Linked DNA regions of Homo sapiens. The protein of the gene in region 3 purifies or fractionates together with the protein of the main gene of each other region. This does not show direct contact. Each region holds a gene or a part of one and is shown on either strand. Other genes may lie near its edges. The genes, in order: HTR1E, RIC3, WDFY3, VSIG4, NPTN, FLCN and CLEC2D.

Evidence for each region.
Region 1: the proteins of WDFY3 (region 3) and HTR1E purify together in Homo sapiens (co-immunoprecipitation; one large-scale study listed by IntAct). This does not show direct contact.
Region 2: the proteins of WDFY3 (region 3) and RIC3 purify together in Homo sapiens (co-immunoprecipitation; one large-scale study listed by IntAct). This does not show direct contact.
Region 4: the proteins of WDFY3 (region 3) and VSIG4 purify together in Homo sapiens (co-immunoprecipitation; one large-scale study listed by IntAct). This does not show direct contact.
Region 5: the proteins of WDFY3 (region 3) and NPTN purify together in Homo sapiens (co-immunoprecipitation; one large-scale study listed by IntAct). This does not show direct contact.
Region 6: the proteins of WDFY3 (region 3) and FLCN purify together in Homo sapiens (affinity purification with mass spectrometry; 2 studies listed by BioGRID and IntAct, with this or other methods). This does not show direct contact.
Region 7: the proteins of WDFY3 (region 3) and CLEC2D purify together in Homo sapiens (co-immunoprecipitation; one large-scale study listed by IntAct). This does not show direct contact.

Annotation. Positions count from the first base shown.
Region 1 is NC_000006.12:86,940,528-86,944,027, reverse strand, and holds part of HTR1E (5-hydroxytryptamine receptor 1E), read right to left. Parts: intron 1-3,500. UniProt on the Homo sapiens protein: G-protein coupled receptor for 5-hydroxytryptamine (serotonin). Also functions as a receptor for various alkaloids and psychoactive substances.
Region 2 is NC_000011.10:8,141,526-8,145,025, forward strand, and holds part of RIC3 (protein RIC-3 isoform a precursor), read right to left. Parts: intron 1-3,500. UniProt on the Homo sapiens protein: Molecular chaperone which facilitates proper subunit assembly and surface trafficking of alpha-7 (CHRNA7) and alpha-8 (CHRNA8) nicotinic acetylcholine receptors.
Region 3 is NC_000004.12:84,816,691-84,820,190, forward strand, and holds part of WDFY3 (WD repeat and FYVE domain-containing protein 3), read right to left. Parts: intron 3,497-3,500; coding exon 3,395-3,496; intron 896-3,394; coding exon 702-895; intron 1-701. UniProt on the Homo sapiens protein: Required for selective macroautophagy (aggrephagy). Acts as an adapter protein by linking specific proteins destined for degradation to the core autophagic machinery members, such as the ATG5-ATG12-ATG16L E3-like ligase, SQSTM1 and LC3.
Region 4 is NC_000023.11:66,033,581-66,037,080, forward strand, and holds part of VSIG4 (V-set and immunoglobulin domain-containing protein 4 isoform 1 precursor), read right to left. Parts: intron 251-3,500; coding exon 1-250. UniProt on the Homo sapiens protein: Phagocytic receptor, strong negative regulator of T-cell proliferation and IL2 production. Potent inhibitor of the alternative complement pathway convertases.
Region 5 is NC_000015.10:73,563,890-73,567,389, forward strand, and holds part of NPTN (neuroplastin isoform b precursor), read right to left. Parts: exon of another isoform or gene 3,049-3,500; intron 1-3,048. UniProt on the Homo sapiens protein: Probable homophilic and heterophilic cell adhesion molecule involved in long term potentiation at hippocampal excitatory synapses through activation of p38MAPK. May also regulate neurite outgrowth by activating the FGFR1 signaling pathway.
Region 6 is NC_000017.11:17,216,669-17,220,168, forward strand, and holds part of FLCN (folliculin), read right to left. Parts: exon of another isoform or gene 2,899-3,500; intron 2,542-2,898; coding exon 2,351-2,541; intron 515-2,350; coding exon 401-514; intron 1-400. UniProt on the Homo sapiens protein: Multi-functional protein, involved in both the cellular response to amino acid availability and in the regulation of glycolysis.
Region 7 is NC_000012.12:9,683,213-9,686,712, reverse strand, and holds part of CLEC2D (C-type lectin domain family 2 member D), read right to left. Parts: intron 1-3,500. UniProt on the Homo sapiens protein: Receptor for KLRB1 that protects target cells against natural killer cell-mediated lysis. Inhibits osteoclast formation. Inhibits bone resorption. Modulates the release of interferon-gamma. Binds high molecular weight sulfated glycosaminoglycans.

The DNA.
Region 1 (3,500 bases), on a different chromosome or scaffold from region 3:
TGTCAACAGCCACGTGAGCGAGCTTGGAAGCGTTACCTTTCCCCAGTTGAGCCTTGAGATGTCTGCAGTCTCGGCTGAAACTTTGCAGCCTGTGAGTGACAGACCTGAGCCAGAGGACCTAGCTAAGCCATACCCAGATTCCCAACCCATGGAACTATGATCATAGAGATAATAAAAATCTGTTGCTTTAAGCCATTAGGTTTTGGGGTAATTTATTATTTAGCAATAATGAATACACACATTTAATCCTCATAAATAGCCCTATGACATAGTACTGTTATGTGAGCCCCAACAAATGAGGAAACTGAGGTTTAGAGATGTGAAAGCAGTTAATGAATGGCAGAGCTGGGATATGAACCTGGCTTTCTGGACTCGAGAGCTTGGGCTTGAGCCCCATGCTGTGTTACCCCCTAGTAGTATAACACAAGGTGCAGTTTGACATCACAGGTGACAATGAATCACAATAGCATATTCTGTTTTGAGAAACTTCCCTGAAAGGAGGCTGAGGTAGACAGGGCATGTATTATTGTCCCCATTGTAACGATGACAGACCATGCAGCTCATACAGCCAAGAGAATGGGGTATTAACCCAGGCCTTCTGACCCCAGGTCCGTAGAGTTGGGCCTGTGCTTCACTGCCACGCTGGCACTGTGGCACTCACTGTACATTCAGCAAGCCCTGAGGAAGCTGGCGGGAGCTTAGCTGACATGCACAGGGTAGGTCAGTTTGTTCTCTGGAGAGCATTCCATGAGATGCAAATATCTTCACACAGGCCTGGGTTAATACCCCATCCTCTTGGCTGTGTGTAGACCCTCTCACCCTTAGATTCAGACTCATTTTACTAAACAGGCAAAACATAGCTACAAATTTCATGTATTTTAATATAACAGGACTATGTGGTAATAGTAACAATACTATGTAATCATTAACTGTTAATTAAATGCATGCTAATGGTACATAAGTCTGAGAAAGGGTACTCAGTACACTTAATGCAATGTGAGAGATTATCTCAAAGCCAATGGGACCCGGCTGGACATCTTTTGTGCTGGAGAAATTACTCCATCTGCATCACAAGAGCATTGCCTCTGTCACCAAGCTGAAAGTAATCAAGTCTTGTGAGCTTTGAGACTTTTGCTTCCTCTAAAGTCATTTTTCATCCCTTCTTGGTAAGATGCTTCATTTATATGTAAGTCACCAAACCCTGGGGTCAGTACAGTCTGGTTCTCCAATGCCTCGGACATAAAGTAAAACCTTGATGGTCTTAGAAACAGGCTTACTGTATTGCAGAGAGGGTGAGGAGATTACATTGTTTTACCAGTTTACAATCTATGAAATAAAATATGCTTGCCAATATGAATGCATCTTGTAAATGATGTATTTGCTAATTATAAATTAAGTTACATATTTAATCCTTGATTTTTTAGAGCATTGTGTAAGGAATTGAATTAGGTTCAGAAGGAAAGAATGGTAAGAAAGTTAAAATGGCTCAAATGAAAGCATAATAAAAGAGGAAATCATGCTTCTTTCTTTGAATGTTAAATTATGATGAACTATATGGTAGGATAGTGTTTATGGATGACTGTATATCAAATTCTTGTGTTAGGTAACAAATACTTCCTTGACTAGGGCAGAGTTCAACATTAAAATTAGGACTATGTAATAAAGTTTAAAATGTAAGGTACTTAAGTAAGTATACAATTCTTGTTTACTTACAGGAAAGAATTAATTACAATGACAAACTACACTGTCAGAAATCATATAAGGATAAATATTACTGAATTCAGAGGGATGAGTTTGGAATGTGGAATCCTTTTCTGTAGGTTCTTCTTCCTCCATCTTCCTCAGATGAGGTGGGCTTTCCTTTCCCATTTTTCTTGGATGCTAACAGCATCTTTTATACCTCTCAGGCATGTTTTCTGCCCAACAGTGTACAAGCGTAATATAAATCCCTATGATTATATTGTCGCTAACCAGGCAAGCTATTGTAGCTAGCCACCTTACTGGGTTCTCTTATTCTTTCTAATGGCATTTTTATGTATCCCCTTGAATTTTCCTAGTAGCTAATTATTTAATCTGTCATTAATAATAAAACTTTTCCCTGACCAATATTTATAACACTTCCCTCCTTCCCTCCTTCCCTTCCTTCCTTCCTTCCTTCCTTTCTTCTTTCCTTCCTTCATTCCTTCCTTCCTTGCTCCCTTCCTCCCTCCCTAATGGGGTCATTAGGAGGATCTGAGAGTTTTAGAACTGCTAGCTGCTGCTGCTGGTAGCTATTTCTCAAAATATTTTCTTCTTGCTATAAAATGCTTTCCTTCTCATACCAGATTTCATAAAGACCTTCCATCTGGTCTGCACTGATAACTAGAATCCAGAGATGCTCATTCCTCTTACAACTTGTAGTTTAAAATGATCCAGATGCAGAAGGATTAGGTTTCATAGCTTCTTCTAAAGGATTTTGTCTTCCTAATCCTACAACTGCATGTGTTGAGAATTGATCAGCATGAGAGAGTGCTAACAATAAACCTATTAAAGTGTCCAGTTTTTCATTTGACGTGTTTTAGGGGAATACAACAATGGGATCAAAACACTGACATCTATTCAGGTAAGGACTGCAGTAAACCAGATAATCCACAGTGCATGAGACAAAATAAGAGAACTAAAAATGAAAGACAAAATTATAGTCAATCTGTATTAGAAAGAGGGTTCTCAAGAATTTTATCAATTTGTTGTGATCCGGGAATATGCCAATTGATTGAGTGATCTCTATAAATTCTGGTTCTCAGTTTCTTAATCCACAAAATGTGGGAACGAATAAAAAGTAGCTGGGATTTTGATGAAAGTCCTTTCATCACCAGGAAGATGAACTTTGGTAAGTTGACTGACCTAAGCCCCAAATTTTAGGGGCCACAATACTGGTTCTAGAAAATGATTCAGGGAGGAGAAAACAAGAGAGAAGTAAGTCACTCTAAAGTGCTGCTGCCCCATTTCTCTTCCCTGTTCATCTGTCCCCTCGTCACTTGTGACGGCACACTCATCTTCAATGTTTCCCTGGGGTTTATGTTCATATAATTTCACATGTAATAAAAATCTGGTAGGTGCAGAAGAAAGGAGCATAAAGCATGAGATGCTAAACTCACCTCTGCCTTGAGATGGCCTTGATAATTTACGGCATAAAAAGTAAGTTCCTATTTGGTAGAAATTCAGCTTTTGATCAGTCTCAAGCTTATTTTTTTGTGTAAATAAGCTTGTAGAAATAGAGGGAATGCTTTCCCACATTAGAGCGTTAGATTTGATCTTTCACTTTTAAAGGGTAGTGCAGAAATAGAATTCCAGGGTGGGCAATCAAAACAAACATGAAAAAAATGATCTGTGTGTAAAAGTGAGATGTAGGGAATTAGACTTGAGTAATGAGAAGATGACACAAAAGTTCAGGGCCTGAGGCTTTCTGCAAAGAGACCTACTTTCTTTTTCTTTCTTTTCTTTTCTTTTTTTGAGACAAG
Region 2 (3,500 bases), on a different chromosome or scaffold from region 3:
AGCAAGTCCTGAGTGACCTACAAAGAGACTTAGACTCCCACACATTAATAATGGGAGACTTTAACACCCCACTGTCAACATTAGACAGATCAACGAGACAGAAAGTCAACAAGGATACCCAGGAATTGAACTCAGCTCTGCACCAAGTGGACCTAATAGACACCTACAGAACTCTCCACCCCAAATCAACAGAATATACATTTTTTTCAGCACCACACCACAACTATTCCAAAATTGACCACATACTTGGAAGTAAAGCTCTCCTCAGCAAATGTAAAAGAACAGAGATTATAACAAACTCTCTCAGACCACAGTGCAATCAAACTAGAACTCAGGATTAAGAATCTCACTCAAAACCGCTCAACTACATGGAAACTGAACAACCTGCTCCTGAATGACTACTGGATACATAACGAAACGAAGGCAGAAATAAAGATGTTCTTTGAAACCAACGAGAACAAAGACACAACATACCAGAATCTCTGGGACGCATTCAAAGCAGTGTGTAGAGGGAAATTTATAGCACTAAATGCCCACAGGAGAAAGCAGGAAAGATCCAAAATTGACACCCTAACATCACAATTAAAAGAACTAGAAAAGCAAGAGCAAACACATTCAAAAGCTAGCAGAAGGCAAGAAATAACTAAAATCAGAGCAGAACTGAAGGAAATAGAGACACAAAAAACCCTTCAAAAAATTAATGAATCCAGGAGCTGGTTTTTTGAAAGGATCAACAAAATTGATAGACCGCTAGCAACACTAATAAAGAAAAAAAGAGAGAAGAATCAAATAGACACAATAAAAAATGATAAAGGGGATATCACCACCTATCCCACAGAAATACAAACTACCATCAGAGAATACTACAAACACCTCTACGCAAAAAAACTAGAAAATCTAGAAGAAATGGATAAATTCCTCAACACATACACTCTCCCAAGACTAAACCAGGAAGAAGTTGAATCTCTGAATAGACCAGTAACAGGAGCTGAAATTGTGGCAATAATCAATAGTTTACCAACCAAAAAGAGTCCAGGACCAGATGGATTCACAGCCGAATTCTATCAGAGGTACAAGGAGGAACTGGTACCATTCCTTCTGAAACTACTCCAATCAATAGAAAAAGAGGGAATCCTCCCTAACTCATTTTATGAGGCCAGCATCATTCTGATACCAAAGCCGGGCAGAGACACAACCAAAAAAGAGAATTTTAGACCAATATCCTTGATGAACATTGATGCAAAAATCCTCAATAAAATACTGGCAAAACGAATCCAGCAGCACATCAAAAAGCTTATCCACCATGATCAAGTGGGCTTCATCCCTGGGATGCAAGGCTGGTTCAATATACGCAAATCAATAAATGTAATCCAGCATATAAACAGAGCCAAAGACAAAAACCACAGGATTATCTCAATAGATGCAGAAAAAGCCTTTGACAAAATTCAACAACCCTTCATGCTAAAAACTCTCAATAAATTAGGTATTGATGGGACGTATTTCAAAATAATAAGATCTATCTATGACAAACCCATAGCCAATATCATACTGAATGGGCAAAAACTGGAAGCATTCCCTTTGAAAACTGGCACAAGACAGGGATGCCCTCTCTCACCACTCCTATTCAACATAGTGTTGGAAGTTCTGGCCAGGGCAATTAGGCAGGAGAAGGAAATAAAGGGTATTCAATTAGGAAAAGAGGAAGTCAAATTGTCTCTGTTTGCAGACGACATGACTGTATATCTAGAAAACCCCATTGTCTCAGCCCAAAATCTCCTTAAGCTGATAAGCAACTTCAGCAAAGTCTCAGGATACAAAATCAATGTACAAAAATCACAAGCATTCTTATACACCAATAACAGACAAACAGAGAGTCAAATCATGAGTGAACTCCCATTCACAATTGCTTCAAAGAGAATAAAATACCTAGGAATCCAACTTACAAGGGATGTGAAGGACCTCTTCAAGGAGAACTACAAACCACTGCTCAAGGAAATAAAAGAGGATACAAACAAACGGAAGAACATTCCATGCTCATGGGTAGGAAGAATCAGTATCGTGAAAATGGCCATACTGCCCAAGGTAATTTACAGATTCAATGCCATCCCCATAAAGCTACCAATGACTTTCTTCACAGAATTGGAAAAAACTACTTTAAAGTTCATATGGAACCAAAAAAGAGCCCGCATCGCCAAGGCAATCCTAAGCCAAAAGAACAAAGCTGGAGGCATCATGCTACCTGACTTCAAACTATACTACAAGGCTACAGTAACCAAAACAGCATGGTACTGGTACCAAAACAGAGATATAGATCAATGGAACAGAACAGAGCCCTCAGAAATAACGCCGCATATCTACAACGATCAGACCTTTGACAAACCTGAGAAAAACAAGCAATGGGGAAAGGATTCCCTATTTAATAAATGGTGCTGGGATAACTGGCTAGCCATATGTAGAAAGCTGAAACTGGATCCCTTCCTTACACCTTATACAAAAATCAATTCAAGATGGATTAAAGCCTTAAACCTTAGACCTAAAACCATAAAAACCCTAGAAGAAAACCTAGGCATTACCATTCAGGACACAGGCATGGGCAAGGACTTCATGTCCAGAACACCAAAAGCGATGGCAACAAAAGACAAAATTGTCAAATGGGATCTAATGAAACTAAAGAGCTTCTGCACAGCAAAAGAAACTACCATCAGAGTGAACAGGCAACCTACAAAATGGGAGAAAATTTTCGCAACCTACTCATCTGACAAAGGGCTAATATCCAGAATCTACGATGAACTCAAACAAATTTACAAGAAAAAAACAAACAACCCCATCAAAAAGTGGGTGAAGGACATGAACAGACACTTCTCAAAAGAAGACATTTATGCAGCCAAAAAACACATGAAAAAATGCTCATCATCACTGGCCATCAGAGAAATGCAAATCAAAACCACAATGAGATACCATCTCACACCAGTTAGAATGGCAATCATTAAAAAGTCAGGAAACAACAGGTGCTGGAGAGGATGTGGAGAAATAGGAACACTTTTACACTGTTGGTGGGACTGTAAACTAGTTCAACCATTGTGGAAGTCAGTGTGGTGATTCCTCAGGGATCTAGAACTAGAAATACCATTTGACCTAGCCATCCCATTACTGGGTATATACCCAAAGGACTATAAATTATGCTGCTATAAAGACACATGCACACGTATGTTTATTGCGGCATTATTCACAATAGCAAAGACTTGGAACCAACCCAAATGTCCAACAATGATAGACTAGATTAAGAAAATGTGGCACATATATACCATGGAATACTATGCAGCCATAAAAAATGAAGAGTTCATGTCCTTTGTAGGGACATGGATGAAATTGGAAATCATCATTCTCAGTAAACTATCGCAAGAACAAAAAACCAAACACCGCATATTCTCACTCATAGGTGGGAATTGAACAATGAGATCACATGGACACAGGAAGGGGAATATCACACTCTGGGGACT
Region 3 (3,500 bases):
GATTCTAAAAATTTCTTACATATCATTTCTTATAATATCAATAACCAGTAATATGGGAGAATGTGAGTGTATAAATCTGTATAAAACAATGGTGCTGTGGAAATAAAACGGGTATTGAAATCTGGGGGTCGGTTCTACTAATTAAAAGTCACTTAAGTGAACAAAATCCATGTTATATGATTTCTCTAAACCTAAGTTTTCTCATCTGCAAAACAGGGTGCTACTTAATTTATAGTATTACTAAGGAGTAAATGATAAAAGCATATGTATAACTCCTGGTATATTGTTTGATATCTACTAGAATATCCATTACTTACATACATACATATATGCATGCATGTGTATAAAATGCCAAATCTAACATTCATTTCACAGATGCATAACACTATGAGTGAATTTAACTGATCAGAAAATACATATATTTAGTATTAATTAAGATCCTATACTTCACTAATATTTAATTTAAGAGTTCCAGTAAGTCAAGATAATTACTGAAAAGGTTTATCAGCAGAAGTAAAATATATACTGAAAGACATAAATGACTGGAGTTTTTCCAAGTTCCTAACGTGTACAAAGTTGTGAGGTTTCTTGGGTAATTTGGATTTTTTTTAATTTCCCTGTCTCTAACTTAAATACAGATCATCTAAAAATAACCACAGATTTTAGTAGTAAAAGAAGGGAAACACATTTATCAAACTTACCCTTAAAATATCAGTCTTCAACTGCAATTCCGTCGGTGGGGCTGAATGCATTAGCCCCAGGAGAGTGCCCATGTCATCGTCCCCATTTGGGGAGAGCACCAGCTGTTGGATAGTCATCAAGGCATGCTGCCGGCATTGAGGGTACTTTACTATATTATGTGCACATCTTGCACCTCCAAATTCTCGAAAAATTCCTTGAAGGAAGGAGAAAAAGTCCAACAATGGCTACTTTAAAATATTCTGAGACAAGTCAGATGAATTAACATTCAGTTATTTTTTGTAGGTAAAGTAACTCATAATAATGTAAATAAAACCTACCCAACTATTTCACCTTTTAAATTACAATACAAATTTGCACAGTGGGTTGTCAGCAAAGGTATATGCAAATTTTCTCTACATTTCCTTAATGCAAGATTAATGCCGTGATATGTTCACCATGTCCAAGCTCTCAAAATCTAGAACATTCACAAGTCTCTTAGGCAGACCCTAGGAGACTCTCTATTGTAATCAACTTATGTAAAAGGCTTTCAGAGGAACAATAGCCTAAATAAAGGAGATTTAAATGAACATGGCTTCCAAAATAGTAGCAAGAAAGGAATGGAATAAATTATTCCACCATGGGAAAAATTACAAGGAACCAACATGTTTTGTTGCACAGGTAGAGCATAAGAACAAAAAGTGACAAATTCTGTAACAGAAGTATGTGTCATTGTTACTGCTCCAAAGCCTTTACACAGATTGACTTACTTAATACTCATCCCCTACCATATAGAGGTAAGGCGGTCAAAGTCATACAGCTAGTAAGCAACAGAAAAGGATGTATGCCTACATAGCCCAGCTCTGTAAGCCTGTGCTCCTGCTCACAAGTGATACTGTTCTCACATCAAATATTAATATCATCCTCCAGTATTAAAAAAATGGGCCCAGTGACTGAAATCACTAATTAGTATTTCCTCTAAGTAATTCTTCTATCCCTTACGTTTTTAGGGCATCTTGTTTATATCTCTATTATGGTTTATAACAAACAGTCTTACTATTATTGCTTATGTTTGGTCTTCCATGACTACTGGATTTTCTCCTGATTTGTGTTTCAATAAACGTTTACTAAAACAGTGTATTCTGCTATAGCAGCCACTGTCCTCTCTGCTTAGTGGCTTTCTATTTGTTAACTTTATAAAAATTATAAGATCATGAAGTCAGTCTAAGCCATGTGCTTGAGATTCAGCACATGGAATTTGTGACATCCTTTCATTACCTGAAGGCCTGTTTAGTTACCTCCTGGTTGTCAGTTAGGACCCACTAGATAATCATAATGGCTAATATTATTTAAATACTTAAACTATGAGTAAAGTACTGTTTTAAATGCCTAACATCACACAGCTAGTAACATCTTTCATACTGGGAAAAGAAAAACTGAAAAGAATTGTATGAAATTGTTTGGCACTTTGGGATATGTACTAAGTGACTTTTAGTCGTGCAGAGTAAGCTCTCCAATTGTCCAATCTCTTCCTGTGCAACTTCTAGGTCGTCTCAAGGAAAGCTAATTTGCTAAGCAAATTCCTGTTAGTCTATCTTCATTATGTTTCTGATTATCTCAGTTAACTAAACCTAGTTAGTGGAAATAAGATTATGCATTATGCCATAGACAAAATGTTACTATAGTATCCACTAAAATTCATCATACTCATTGTTTCAATTACCTGTTAAATTCATTCAAGTCTATCTTAGCATTTGCCAAATTTGTATCAGACTAATTACTTCTATAATTATGTGTCTACATTTTTCTTCACTAGATTCTAATTCCCAGGGAGCAAGAATGATCTTACCTTAGCATCTAGGTGTTAGAATAATCTAACACCTAGCTAGCATGGTACCTGGGATACACAATATATTTTAAATATGATGAATGCTGAGTTTCCCTGCATTCAGGCAAACAGTCATGCATTTGGGCATGGGGTTCATTCATCCATGGCTTTCCATAACACTTAAAATATATTTCAAGCTCCTTACCATGGCCTAAAAAGCTCCCTATGATTTGAGCCCAGCCTACTAATCTGAACTCATTATTCCTCTCAAGTTGTACTGAACTTATTACCTGAGAGTTGTTTGATGTTAATTAAAATCTCAAGTAATCTTTTTTAAAAAGCAAGAGTGATATTTTATAAATATAGTTAGGTTATCTGTTAATGACAGGTAGAAAAGTATAAAAGAGAAATTGAGACCAAAATTAAACAAAATATTTAGTAAAGTTAATTAACCTTGGAGAGATTACGTTTTATTAGAGAATCATTGTTCAGTATTTCCTGAAGGTTGTAACATTATAATACTCTAACTTGTAGTACTAAAAATATTCTTTAAATCACTGTGTAAAGAAAATATTTTAGAAAGAATTTAAATAGCAACTTATTTGAGTAAGAGTGTATCAATAAAAAATTAGAAGAATACTTTCAACACAAGACACTATAAAAAGCAATTTAAACATCATTTTGAAATAGTAACAATCTTATATGTTTTGTCATCAAGGTGCTCCTGATGGTCAAAAGCACTGCATTTTTAGGGACATGACGGGTACCATCACTGAATCAATAGTTTTTTCTCTAAAGTGACAGGAAGATTTCAGAAGCAAGAATAACCACAGAAGATGTAATCAGTGGTAATCTCCCAAAGTATTTGCTTGCAGCTTTTTAAATTACCTGCATTTGTGTTTGATCCTTGAAGAAGCACTGTCAAGGTCTCCATAACCAATAAAGCCAGGTGTTTTTGGTCTTCAACTGAACTATTATTTCTTGAGTCCCCTAA
Region 4 (3,500 bases), on a different chromosome or scaffold from region 3:
GTGCTCAATTGGAGGGATACATCTCCTGGAACCTTGTGGCTCACATGCAGGCGGCCCTGGTACTTTGCCTGCTGGATATGGTCTCCAGAAGAGTCACGTAGAAAGATGGTGACAGGGTCTGAGCCACGTTGTACCAGCCACTTCACCAAGACTTGGGTGTAGCCTTGCAGGGGGTCATAGGTGCAGGGAAGATTCACATCCCCTTTCCAAGGTCCTGTTACACTCTCTGGCACTTCCAGGATGGGACGGCCTGAAGAGGCGGAACAGAGGAAAGAAGCAAACGTAGATGGCATACCTACTTGGCAACTAAGGTGACAGTGACAAACCTCAAAAGGTTTCTGAGAAATGCCACTCAACTTTCTTTCTATCACACTTTTGTGTACCTGTGCCCTTTTGCTCTTTGCCAGCCTTCTCATCAATCAGAACCAGTCTTCAGAATGAAAGCCTTTAACATTGTTTAGATCTTGTGAGTTTCAAGTCCTTTTTATGTTACTGTCTTGCTATGAAGGTGATCCTAGGTAAGTCACCTTCTTACCGTGGAAGATTCATTTACTTCATCTATAATGTGGAGAGTTTGGGTGGTAGGTGCTCTAGATATTCTATCAAATCTGTCATTCTGCAAATCCATGAAAAAATTTTCTTTTCACATTTTCCAAAAGAGATGTGGAAGCAAAAATGCTAAGCATTTGGGTCTGGACTATTTCATTTTGTGTAAATTTGCACCTGGAGAAAGGTGGAGGCTTTTGAGATCAGCAAGAAAGGGCCCTCTGCCCTGTTATCTTCTCTTGTTCCCTTAGAAATCCTCAGTGAGTGGGGTCCCAACCCTAAGATGTTCTCTGGAAGACAGGCAAAAGGAAATACTGAGGGTGGAACCAAGTGTGAGGAAGAAGTCTGGATACACATTCCTGTTTAACAAAATCATTAGCTATTGTTAAATTCAAAACCTGCACTTTGTAAACCTGACTTTTTTTCTGATTTCTTTTGTTTATTTTCCTTTTGGTTTCTCTTAGTTCTTAGCAAGGATACATAGGAAAATTTCATCTTGAGGGGGAAAAGATTGCATCCATTTTTGGTCTAGAGAGGAAAAGGTTCTGAGTGAAATCCTGAAGCTGGCTGTAGTAGGGGTGGTGATAGAAGCAATGGGAGATTGCTCCTTGGCGTGTTTGAGAAGGAAACCCTTGGGGATGGGGGTGGGGGTGGGGAAGGAGGTGGGGATGTTGAAACAGCCATTGCCTCCCATCAGAATTTTCCATCCATAAGCTCTTATTTAGAAGATTTTTTGTTTTATTTAGCTGGGGCCAGGAGTGTGGGGTGGGTATATTTAGGCAATATATTCATGTCTCTCCTAAGAGAGGTGGTTTCAAAGATATGAGGTATTCCTGAATAAAAGTCTTTTATTGAGCCTAGAAATCCCAGTATTCAGTCAAGCGGATGGAAGATGACATCTTTTGGATGGGTTGAGTGTATGCGTTCTAACTCCCAGAATATACTGTCCAGCATCAGGACTTCTGTTAATAGAGATATAAAATCAAGCCTCTAGCCTGTGCCCTCACCAGGGACCCTTAGAACATCAATAGCATATTTTAGTCAAGAAAAAGCCCTTGAGTAGAAAAGAATAAATAACATAAGTCCATGTTGCTAGATCCACTACATACTCTCTGGAATGCTTCGAATTTGGCAGAGAGCAGAACTCAGACCTACGAATGGGAATACAAGAGGGGCAGATTTTGGTTTGCTCTATTTTCCTAATTCTATTTCTTTTTATGTTATTCTTGTCTGCTTTTCACATCGCAGAACAGATGGTTTGCCTTAGAACGAACTTTGTGATTAATCAGAGCTGTCTATGGATGGATTAAACTGTCTGGGGGAAGTTCTAGGCTTTGTTTGGGTCTTAGCCTTGCTCTTTAAGGTCCCTTCTAATCTTAGGTGGTCAAGTGTTAATAGGCTATAATAGAAATAGAAGTTATGTAATTATAGGTTCCAGCTGGTGGTGAATTTTCACCAGGTAGTGGGTTTCACTGTGCCATAGATAGTTCACACCTCCATGTGATTGCAGATACAGCTTTTCATTATCATGGACTCACATGCCCATACATATTTTTGGCCACATGCAAGCACAAACATACCATGCTTAAACCCCATGAAAACTATCTGAGCCTCTTGGTTTAATAGGCTATTTCCCATTAATCTTCCTCTGGACTTTCCCAATGTCCCTCCTCTTCTCTGAAAAGCATTCTCACATTCCCCTCTTGGGCAACAAAGCAGCATTCTGCTGTGAGTTGAAAATGCCTTTGTCTATGCATATGCAGGTCTTCCTTCTGACCTTAGGGGAGCTGAAAGGCCTGGGTTGTGTTTTTCCTCCCTGGGAATTTGCTGGAAATTCTCACAAAGCTCAGTCTGGCCTATCAAGAAAATTGCTAGATAGTCTCAATTTCTCAGTTTTGAAAATCACTTCTGGAAGTAGGTCAGGCTTAACTCCTCCATCCCAGAATGAATAGGACAGAGTTGGTAACTAGACTTCCCAAAATGGCATGTTTTTTCCCCTTTTACTTTTTTTTTCCTCTCCCTTCTTCCTCCTTTATTTCTTCCACTCATTGTTCCATTATGCTTCCGTTCCTTTTTTCTTCCTTCTTCTTTTTCTTATTCTTATCTCCTCTTCCTCCTCCTGCTTCATTAGTTGCATAAAGAGACTGGATTATAGGTACAGGACATCACAAGAAAAATGACATTGTACTATTCCTCATGTTTTCTGATCTCCAAAGTGAAGTAAACCACAATACCACTGACTTGTACCTTCTACCTTTCCTTGTAGTTCCCCTAGAATCAAGTAGGAGCCCCTAATGAGAGCAGGAGGGTAATGAAGGACTGTATGATGTAGTAGGAATAACACTGATCTAAGCGCAAGGTCTGCCTTACCACATATCTCTCTGTGTGACCTTGGGTAAATTACTAAACCTATCTGAACTTTGAGTCACTATCAGTAAAGTGGAAGTAATAATAAAGGAAGTAATATTATAATATAATAAAAATATAATATAATATATTTATAATATAGATAATATTTTAATAATATAATATATAATATAATATAATATATATAATACGATATATTATTAATATATTATAATTATATAATATATATATTATATAATTATAATATATTAATAATATATAATATAATATAATATATATTATATTATATTATATATAATATAATATATTATATAATATTATATATTATTATATATATAATATGTTATATAATATATTATATATATAATAATATATTATATTATATATTATATTATATATTTTATTATATAATATATTATATGATATATTATATTATATGATATATTATATGATATATTATATTATATTATATAATATATAATATAATATATCATATAATATAATATATCATATAATATATCATATAATATAATATATAATGTAATATAATATATCATATAATATATATTATATAATAATATAATATA
Region 5 (3,500 bases), on a different chromosome or scaffold from region 3:
CTGTGACACACCGAGGAAAGCTGAACAGTGGTGACATCCCTCTAGAAAAGACTTCAGAAAGACAGGCTCACTCCTGTGCCCTGGCCAAAACCAGAAGCCAAACCCAGGGGAGCCATGAGATAACTTTTTTAAAATCAAAAAGCTGACATTATATGAGTTTAAGCCTTCTTAAATTGATACTTTATGATTCTGATTTATAAGTCTTTCGTGTTTCAACTAAGTGCAACTTGATCCCCTTTAAGCAGAGATACACATTCACAGAGAGAGAATGTTTTAAAAAGACCCACAAGGGGAAGGGAACAAGTAAGTGCTCTTAGTTTGTTTTTATTATACAAAAGTCAGGTAAACTAAATGATTCAGAACAGTTTGATTTCACTGAAGGCTTCTAGAAAAATTCTCAGCAGGATTCCACAAGGGGGCTTGGTGCACATGAAGCAGTTATGGAGATTACAGTCTCAGTGTAGGCATCTGCAGGAGCACATGTCGGGAGTAATGTCTGTCAGAGGGAGACATTGCTCCACCTGTTCCTTCGAGGCAACGGAGAGGCAAAGCCACCGCCAGCACACACAGTGACTGGAGCAAAAAAGGATTTCAAAAAAAAGAACTAACCACAAACCAATGACTCATCAGCCAAAACAATAGGCTAGCGACACACTAGTGTCCACAGGAGTCCACTACTAACAACAGTATACACTATCAAACGGGTACAGAGAACAAACTAAGACTTAAGGACACCCAAGACATCTGTGTGCTGTGTATGCAGTGGAGAGATACAAAGACATACCAGGTACTAAGACACAAAAGCCCAGCCTAAATTCTCCCCTCACAACATCCTAATGCTCAGCATCCCGGCCAAGCCAGCTCAGCTACATGCTAGGAACTAAGCACTTTGGGGATTTAAATGAAAAGACATAGGAGCAAACTTGGAATACTTTTAGTGCTCTGGCTGTGCACTCGAAAATACAAAATTCTAATGCAAGAGAGCCGAATCAAGAATACACCAATCTACTCCCAAATTTAAAATAAAAAGCAGGGGAGGGAGAATCGCAATAGCCAGGCTAATCTTTTCAAAGCATGACACTGTAGGCACCAACCCAAGCACCTCACACCACGGGCTGTTTTTCCTTTTGGAGTGTGGGTATTCCCTGGTGTCTGATTAGTAATGTCACTTTCCAGCCCAACAAGCTGGTAACATGCAAAGGGTTGCATGGAGGTGTTTTAGCGACAGTGCCTCCGGCATAGCTGCCATGCCTGCAAGTGGGAGCAGTTGAGATTCACAAGGGGGCAAAATCCCAGGAGCCCTCTTCATCTGTCTCCCCAAATCCACTTTCACACTGACAAACAAAAGAGCCTCATGTCTCCCCACTCTCCTGGACTGAATCACTATCTGCAGCACCACTCTCCCCTACAGGTCAGACAAAAAAACGACTTGACCCCTAACAGGGAAGTCAGGGGAGAGGGAAAGAACAGAATTACAGAAAAAAGATACAGAAACCAAAGTAAATGAGGATTAAACAGCAAACTGAAATCCAAATTAGTTGTGAAAGTGAATGAAGTAAACTTGAAGAAAAGTGTTAACATTATGAACTGTGCATCGTATAGACTGAAGCGGAGATTAAACAAACTCCAAAAGCATGCATATCGCTCACTTACCACCATGTTTTAAGGGTTTGATGCAATTGAGGGGGGAAAAAAAAGAAGTCATAGTAACCGACAAATATCAACATACCCCAAACCCTCAGGCCAAAAGATAGCCAGCTTAAACAATGACTGTTCTCTCCACCTCAGTATTACAGCCACTGGCTAGATGAGAGGAAGAGGACTGGGGGGATAATGGAAACAAGATGCTTCTGGAATCCACCTTATGAGAGTGAAGTTACCGGTGGAACTGTAGCACACACTGATTTATCTGCGTGTTCCATCTTCCCAACCGAATGGACCACAGCCCTCACTCCCCCTATATCCGCCTCATCATCTAGAAGGGGTGCTCTGCAATGTCTAGTAAATAACGGATTGCCTAATACAATATCACCTCCAAAAAGATGGCTTTAAAGTCCGAATAATGAAGAGTTGACTCTCTGGTCAAAGGTCCTTTGTCACTGCATTCATCTCACTAGAAGGTTTTATGGTTTCTAAATCCACTTAAATTTTGCCTGACCTTAGCAGGTTAGCATTAAACCCAAGAGAGACTGAGTTACTTCCTATTTCCTTCCTTGTTTGGTCCTATTGCATTTTCTCCATGAGGTAACTTGTTATTGACCCAGATGGCCCCTAGTTAACAGACCAGACACCGAATGCATGTTTTAGGTGTCATTTTAAAAGTCACATTTCTTTTCCAATATCCCTAGTCTGTATAAAGCTTCATATGCTACCAAATGTTTTGACCAACGAATAGATTTTGGAACATTAGAACAGCTCTTCATTCTAAAGTGTCTAAAAGAGCTTGGATATATCAGAGCCACTAAAAATGGCCCCCCAAAAAACCTCAAATATCTTCTCCATCAGTAACTTAAAGAGAGTCCCTTTGACTTGCTTATAAAAAATTATCCCAAGGTAAAAACAGAAAGTTCTTTTTTGGTACCAGCACTTCTTTTCTTAAATCAGCTCCTGTTTTAATTTGCTGTCTGTGAGGTCACTAAAATATCCAGAAGAACTGCAGGCCTCAGCAACTAAGTGGGTTCACTCCCCATTCCTCCAGGGCCTGGGGAGGGGAGACTCAGGAGCACAGGCTGACTGCTCCTGGAGTGCAGTCCGCAGGACACCAACACAGAAGGTGCACCCAAGCAGGTGCCCAGCTGTGACATGGATGGAAGCCTAGAGGCTGCTAGCTTGACCTGGTCTTTTTAGAGAACTATCATTTAACATTTTCAGGGAATACAGTCAAGTGGTGAGTCAAGTGAACAAAACAAAGCTCTTATTTGACTCCATGATTCACTTGTTCCTGAAAATACTGAAGGTAAAGGTGATCTGTAGATTAGTCCACCTACAAGACAACCTAGTGGGCACTGATCCTCAAAGAGACCATACAGGGGACTAAAGGAATGCAGGTGGGTGTTTTCATGTAGGAAATGGTCTGAGAATACTCCAGTAGGTAAAGAAAAAAGACATGGGGCTTTTTTTTTTTTTTTTTTTTTAAAGGAAGCAGCTAAACCTCAATCCTAAGCATTTTCAATGTGAGAAATCTAAATATTTGATTTTCTAGTGAAACATACTTAAACTAAACTATGTAAGTTCAAATTTGTGCTTTTATACTTTTGTATTGTTCACTTAGTGCTTTTGTAGTAAGGGGATGAGTTACCAAGAACTCACAGACTGCCCAAAATATGACGACTGTGCATTCATATAAAAAAAGTTCAGTGAGTCTGAAATGAGCCATGGGTGTATCTTGATAATAAAGTGCTATTTGGCAAAGTAGAAGTATGGCAGGCCTATAAAAAAATTCCCATTTTCCTAATGGTATAAAAAAAATCCAACACAGAGCCACAGATGGTTATCTGATA
Region 6 (3,500 bases), on a different chromosome or scaffold from region 3:
AGGGTCCTCCACCACCAGGTCCCTAACTCTTGTCTGGACCGCCAGTCACACACCAGCTTGTACCGCCCCTCGCTCTGTGGTGTTAACTCATATTAATGTTTGCCTGCACAGATGTTTGTCTCCTACCGCATCCCACAAAGAAGCTTTTACCAAGACTGTGTCATATGCATTTTTGTTCCCTCTCAGGCCTGGGCAGTCAGCAGGCACACGCATCCTTCTGATGATTTAAACATCATCAGACCAGACCCGGGTCTCCGTGCCCACTGCGCCCCCAGTGGAGACCGTGTGGTGCACAGCGGTTCTGTGCTGGGCAGTCGGTGCACCTTGGCATCCCCACCTGACGCCAGGCACCAGGCCAATACTGCCCTGCGCCGCACACCTAAGGAAAAGATGTTCTCACCCGAAGTACTTCAAAAGCTGACTGGACGAGGTCCACGTCTCTGCTTTTCCAGATCACCTGGTTCCCCATGAGAACGTGCCAGGCCAGCATGCGGAAAGAAGGGGCACCCAGGACCTAAACAAGAGAGTGCAGTGCTTTCAGCGTGACTAGTAGAAATGGTTTTTCTCTCCCTTCCCATGAAGTTATTTGTGTGTTCATAAAACTTTGTAGAGCAAAGACAGGGCTCAGGAGAAAGACACTTATCTTCTCAGGGAGGCGGGTGCCCGGCCCAGGGTTAAAGGGGCAGAGAGAGAAGTTCCAGGTTTGCACATAAATGCTAGATTCCAAAGCTCTTGCTCCAAGATCTTTCTCCCAGTTTTGTTTTTAAAAATTTGAAGCAAAAAGATGTTAACTTTGTGCAATATTCACCTTCTCTCTACAGACACTTTCTGCTGAACCATTTGAAAGCAAGCTGTAGGGCCCTCGACATGGCAGCACCCAGGAGAATAAGGGCATCTCCACAGCTGAGACCATGACTGCAGCCAGGAGTGCCTGGACGGACGCATCTGACATCCAGCCGTGTGCACAAGCCCAGGGCTGCTGCCTGCTTGACGGCTGCTGTTCTTTGGATCCAGGAGATACTACAGGACCCATCATGGCTTTTAGTTGTCACGTCCTTATTCTTTAACCTAGAACAGCCTCTCCCCACACCCCACCTGTTATTAACTTCCATGACATTGACACCTTAGGAGAGTCCAGCCTGCTGTCTCACGGCTTCTAAGAAGCCAAACCCAGCTTTGAAACACAACATAAGAGAGAGGCCACAATACTATGTCTCACCAAACCCCAACAGCCTCAAAGTAGTCCCACCTCCAGAGGAATTCCAGACCCCTTCCAACCTTCATCAACATAAGCAACGGACAAGGAAGGTTTCAGCCAAATGCAGGATTTTGATGGAATGGGTGTTTACATCCAGAAGCCCCAAGGACATCTGCCATGAAATCAGTCTCACTCCATTTTCAAAAACAAATAACTCTCTTCTAATGAATCAGTGCTCATTGGAAAAATTCATGCAGAAGAATTTTATAAGAAGGCAGCCTGCCCTTGTAATCCAGCAACCCACACCCCTCTCTCCCGGCATCTGACTCGATGTAACTGGAGACAACACTGTTAGATTTTGTCGTGTCTGGCAGGCACACATGTACATACATCACCCTGAACACACAGTGCCTGCTTTATTTCTTCTAATTAATCATATTCCATGGTTTGGCTACTGTTTACTAGTATGGTTTGATATGCAAGTTGTTCCTAATTTTTTGTAAGAATGACCATCACTTTCTTTTTTTTTTTTTTTTTGAGATGGAGTCTCGCTCTGTCACCAGTCTGGAGTGCAGTGGTGCCATCTTGGCTCACTGTTAACCTCCACCTCCCAGGTTCAAGCGATTCTCCTGCCTCAGCCTCCAAGTAGCTGGGACTACAGGCACATGCCACCATGCCCAGCTAATTTTTGTATTAATAGAGATGGGGTTTCACCATGTTGGCCAGGCTGGTCTCGAACTCCTGACCTCGTGATCCGCTCCCCCTTGGCCTCCCAAAGTGCTGGGATTACAGGTGAGAGCCACCACGCCCAGCCAGACCATCACTTACAATGGGCAGGGTCCAGGCTGCATCCAAACCAATTACAGTGCTGTTCAATGCCTTTAGGAGCTTCTTAGAGGATTAGAGGACCATGGGATGCCAACTATCTGGGCTTTTCTTTGAAGATACTTAGGTCATCACTGAAAGGGGAGCACTGATCCTATGGCTAATACCCCCAACGCCCTGTGCCCTCAGCCACCCACCGAGGAGGCTGTCAGTCACTTCCTGCAGGGTTTTGAAGGTGGAGGGTCCAGAGGCAAGGCGTGTGGGCAGGGACAGCCCATGACTGGCTCTCCTCCTGAGCTCCTGATGCGCTGTGCCCCTGCCGCCTACCTGCCTCATGTGCCGGAGGGACTTGAAGACTGGCAGCTTCCGGGGCTGCCAGCTCCCACAGCCTGAGAGAGAGGAGGACTCTGCCGGGCCCTGGGTCAGCTCCCGCCCTTCTGTACTCTCTGGCAACACAGGGGCTTTCTCCTCCTCTTCAGCCTCAGAGTTGTCCCAGCTTTCTGATTCCTCTTCTAAATCTGCAAGACAGATGACAAGGACAGTTACAGATACAAACAGTCTCATCCTGTGACTTCAGCCCAAGATACTTCATGGGCTGAGCCGGTCAGTGTAGATTCCTGGCTGCGGCCAGGTCCTATGCTCCCTGCTCCCTGTTGCTCTGGGAGCCCTGGGGTGGGAGGGAGGGCTCAGTTGCTGTCTACTTAGCCCGGGGTACCACACATCTCTCTTAGAAGCACTTATGGAAAGACCGTCAGCTGTTCTCTGCTGGTGAGAAAACTCAAATCAGTAAGAAAAATGCCAACAGCGTGTCTACGGAACACACCCAGTCGGCCACAGTTCTCGAGGATCTACACGTTGTTTCTTTTTTTTCCACTTTTTTTTTTTTTTTTTTTTTTGAGACGGAGTCTCACTCTGTCGCACAGGCTGGAGTGCAGTGGCGCAATCTCGGCTCACTGCAACCTCCGCCTCCTGGGTTCAAGCGATTCTTCTGCCCCAGCCTCCCAAGTAGCTGGGACTACAGGCACCTGCCACCATGTCCGGCTAACTTTTTTTGGTATTTTTAGTAGAGACGGGGTTTCACCGTTATCTGCCAGGCTGGTCTCAAACTCCTGACCTCATGATCCCCCGACCTCGGCCTCCCGGTCCACTTTTGTTTTAGCTTGAGGGCGTACGTGTGCGGCTTTGTTACAAGGGTATGCTGCGTGGTGCTAAAGTTTGGGCTTCTATGAATCCTGTCACCCAGACAGTGAACCACAGGAAGTAATATGCCCAGATAGTATCCAATAGAAAGCATTTCAGCCCTTCCTCCCCTTCCTCCCTCCCTCCCTCCTTCTGGAGCCCCCAGTGTCTACTATTCCCATCTTTTTTATTTGAGACAGTGTCTCGCTCTGTTGCCCAGGCTGGAATGCAGTGGCACGATCACGGCTTACTGCAGCCTCAATCTTCTGGGCTCAAGTGATCCTCCCAACGAAGCCTT
Region 7 (3,500 bases), on a different chromosome or scaffold from region 3:
CTGAGCCCCTAGTAGCTACCAGTTCATCTTCTATTATATAACCACCTTCTACCTTCAACTCAATGGTTCTGAAAGTGTCTATGATAGACCAGAATGCTGGGTATTCATAGAATCATTACTATCAATTGGCACCATTATCCTTGGATTTGGCTCTTGTGAGATGAGAAATCACTCTTAGTTATGAATAATAACTGGTGTAATCTGAATAACAAATCATAACATGAGGCAAACGTGTATTGTATCTGGTTTGGTATCACAAACAAGGTGATACCAAATTATAACTATTAAAATGTAATTTCTTGAACCAGACCATAATGCAGGATGACTTTCCCCAAATCTGTGCATATTTGTTGTGCTATCACTGCTCCTGTATCAACCAATTTAAAGAAAACGACCAGACCAGAGAGGGCAAGATGGCTGATTAGAAACAGCTCTGGTCTGCAGTTCCCAGTGAGACCAATGCAGAAGGCAGGTGATTTCTGCATTTCCAACTGAGGTACCAGGATCATCTCACTGGGACTGGTTACACAAGTGGGTGCAGCCCACAGAGGGCAAGCAGAAGCAGGGTGGGGCGCTGCTTCACCCAGGAAGCACAAGGGGTGGGAGAACTCCCTCCCCTAGCCAAGGGAAGTTGTGAGGGACTGTGCTGTGAGGTGCTATCTGGCCCAGATACTACGCTTTTCCCACGGTTTTTGCAACCCACAGACCAGGAGATTCTCTGGAGTGCCAACACTACCAGAACCCTGGGTTTCAAGCACAAAACTGGGTGGCGATTTGGGCAGTCACCAAGATAACTGCAGGAGTTTTTTTCATACCCCAGTGGAGCCTGGAACCCACTGAGACAGAATCATTCACTCTGCTGGAAAGGGGGCTGAAGCCAGGGAGCCAAGTGGTCTTGCTCAGTGGGTCCAATCCCCACAGAGCCCAGCAAGCTAAGACCCACTGGCTGGAAATTCTTGCTGCCAGCACAGCAGTCTGAAGTGGACCCCAGATGCTCAAGCTTGGTGAGGGGAGGTGCATCCGCCATTACTGAGGCTTGAGTAGGTGATTTTCCCCTCACAGTGTAAACAAAGCCCTGGGGGAAGTTCGGACTGGGCGGAGCCCACCACAGTGCAGCAAAGCCAGTGCAGCAAAGCCACTGCAGCCGGACTGCCTCTCTAGATTCCTCCTCTCTGGGCAGGGCATCTCTGAAAGAAAGGCAGCAGCCCCAGTCAGGGGCTTATAGATAAAACTCTTATCTCCCTGGGACAGAGCACCTGGGGGAAAGGGTGGCTGTGGTCACGGCTTCAGGAGACTTAAACATTCCTGCCAGCCAGCTCTGAAAAGAGCAGTGGATCTCCCAGCACAGTGCTCGAGCTCTTCTGAGGGAAAGACTGCCTTTTCAAGTGGGTCCCTGACCCCCATGCCTCCTGACTGGGAGACAACTCCTAGCAGGGGTTGATAGGCACCTCATACAGGACAGCTCAGCTGGCATCTGGTGCGTGCCCCTCTGGGATGAAGCTTCCAGAGGAAGGAGCAGGCAGCAATCTTTGCTTTTCTTCAGCCTTTGCTGGTGATACCCAGGCAAGGAAGAAATGGATAAATTCCTGGACACATACACCCTCCCAAGACTAAACCAGGAAGAAATCAGATTCCTGAATAGACCAATAACAGGTTCTGAAACTGAGGCAGTAATTAATAGCCTACCCAACCAAAACAAGCCCATGTCCAGACAAATGCACTGCCGAATTCTACCAGAGGTACGAAGAGGAGCTGGTACCATTCCTTCTGAAATTATTCCAAACAATAGAAAAAGAAGGAATTCTCCCTAACTCATTATATGAGACCAGCATCATCCTGATACCAAAACCTAGCAGAGATACAACAAAAAAGAAAATTTCAGGCCAATATTCCTGATGAACATCAATGCAAAAATCCTCAATAAAATACTGGCCAGCCGAATCCAGCAGCACATCAAAAGCTTATCCACCACGATCAAGTCAGTTTCATCCCTGGGATGAAAGTCTGGTTCAATATATGTAAATTAATAAATGTAATCCATTACATAAGCAGAACCAATGACAAAAACCACATGATGATCTCAACAGATGCAGAAAAGGCCTTTGATAAAATTGAACACCCCTTCATGATAAAAACACACAATAGACTAGGTATTGATGGAACATACATTAAAATAATAAAAGCTATTTATGACAAACTCATAGCGAATATCATACTGAGTGGCCAAAAGCTGGAAGCATTCCCTTTGTAAACTGGCACAAGGCAAGGATGCCCTCTCTCACCACTCCTATTCAATATAGTATTGGAAGTTCTAGTCAGGGCAATCAGGTAAAAGAAAGAAAGAAAGAAAGTGTATTCAACAGGAAGAGAGGAAGTCAAATTATCTCTGTTTGCAGATGACAGAATTGTATATTTAGAAAACCCCATTGTCTCATCCCCTTAAAACTTATTAAGCTGATAAGCAACTTCAGCAAATTCTCAGGATACGAAATCAATGTGCAAAAATCACAAGCATTCCTATACACCAATAACAGACAAACAGAGAGCCAAATCATGAGTGAACTCCCATTCACAATTGCTACTAAGAGAATAAAATACCTAAGAATACAACTTACAAGAGATGTGAAGGACCTCTTCAAGGAGAACTACAAATCACTGCTCAAGGAAATAAGAGATGACACAAACAAATGGAAAATCATTCCATGCTCATAGATAGGAAGAATCAATATTATGAAAATAGTCATATAGCTCAAAGTAATTTATAGATTGAATGCTATTCCCATCAAGCTACCATTGACTTTCTTCACAGAATTAAAAAAAAAAAAACTTTAAATTTCATATGGAACCAAAAAAGAGCCTGTATAGCCAAGACAATCCTAAGCAAAAAGAACTAAGCTGGAGGCATCATGCTACCTGACTTCAAATTAAACTATAAGGCTACAGTAACCAAAACAGCATGGTGTTGGTACCAAAACAGATATATTGACCAATGGACAGAACAGAGGCCTCAGAAATAACACCCAACATCTACAACCATCTGATCTTTGACAAACCTGACAAAAACAAGCAATGGGGGAAAGGATTCCCTATTTAATAAATGGTGTTGAGAAAACTGGCTAGCCATATGCAGAAAACTGAAGCTGGACCCCTTCCTTACACCTTACACAAAAATTAGCTCAAGATGGATTAAAGACTTAAACATAAGACCTAAAACCATAAAAACCTGAGAACAAAACCTAGGCAATACCATTCAGGACACAGGCATGGGCAAAGGTTTTATGATTAAAACACCAAAAGCAATTGCAACAAAAGCAAAAATTGACAAGCGGGATCTAATTTAACTAAAGAGCTTCTGCACAAAAAAAAAAAAAAAAAAACAAACACAAAAAACAAACTATCATCAGAGTGAACAGGCAACCTACAGAATGGGAGACAAATTTTGCAATCTATCCGTTTGACAAACAGCTAATATCTAGAATCTACAAGGAACTTAAAAAAAT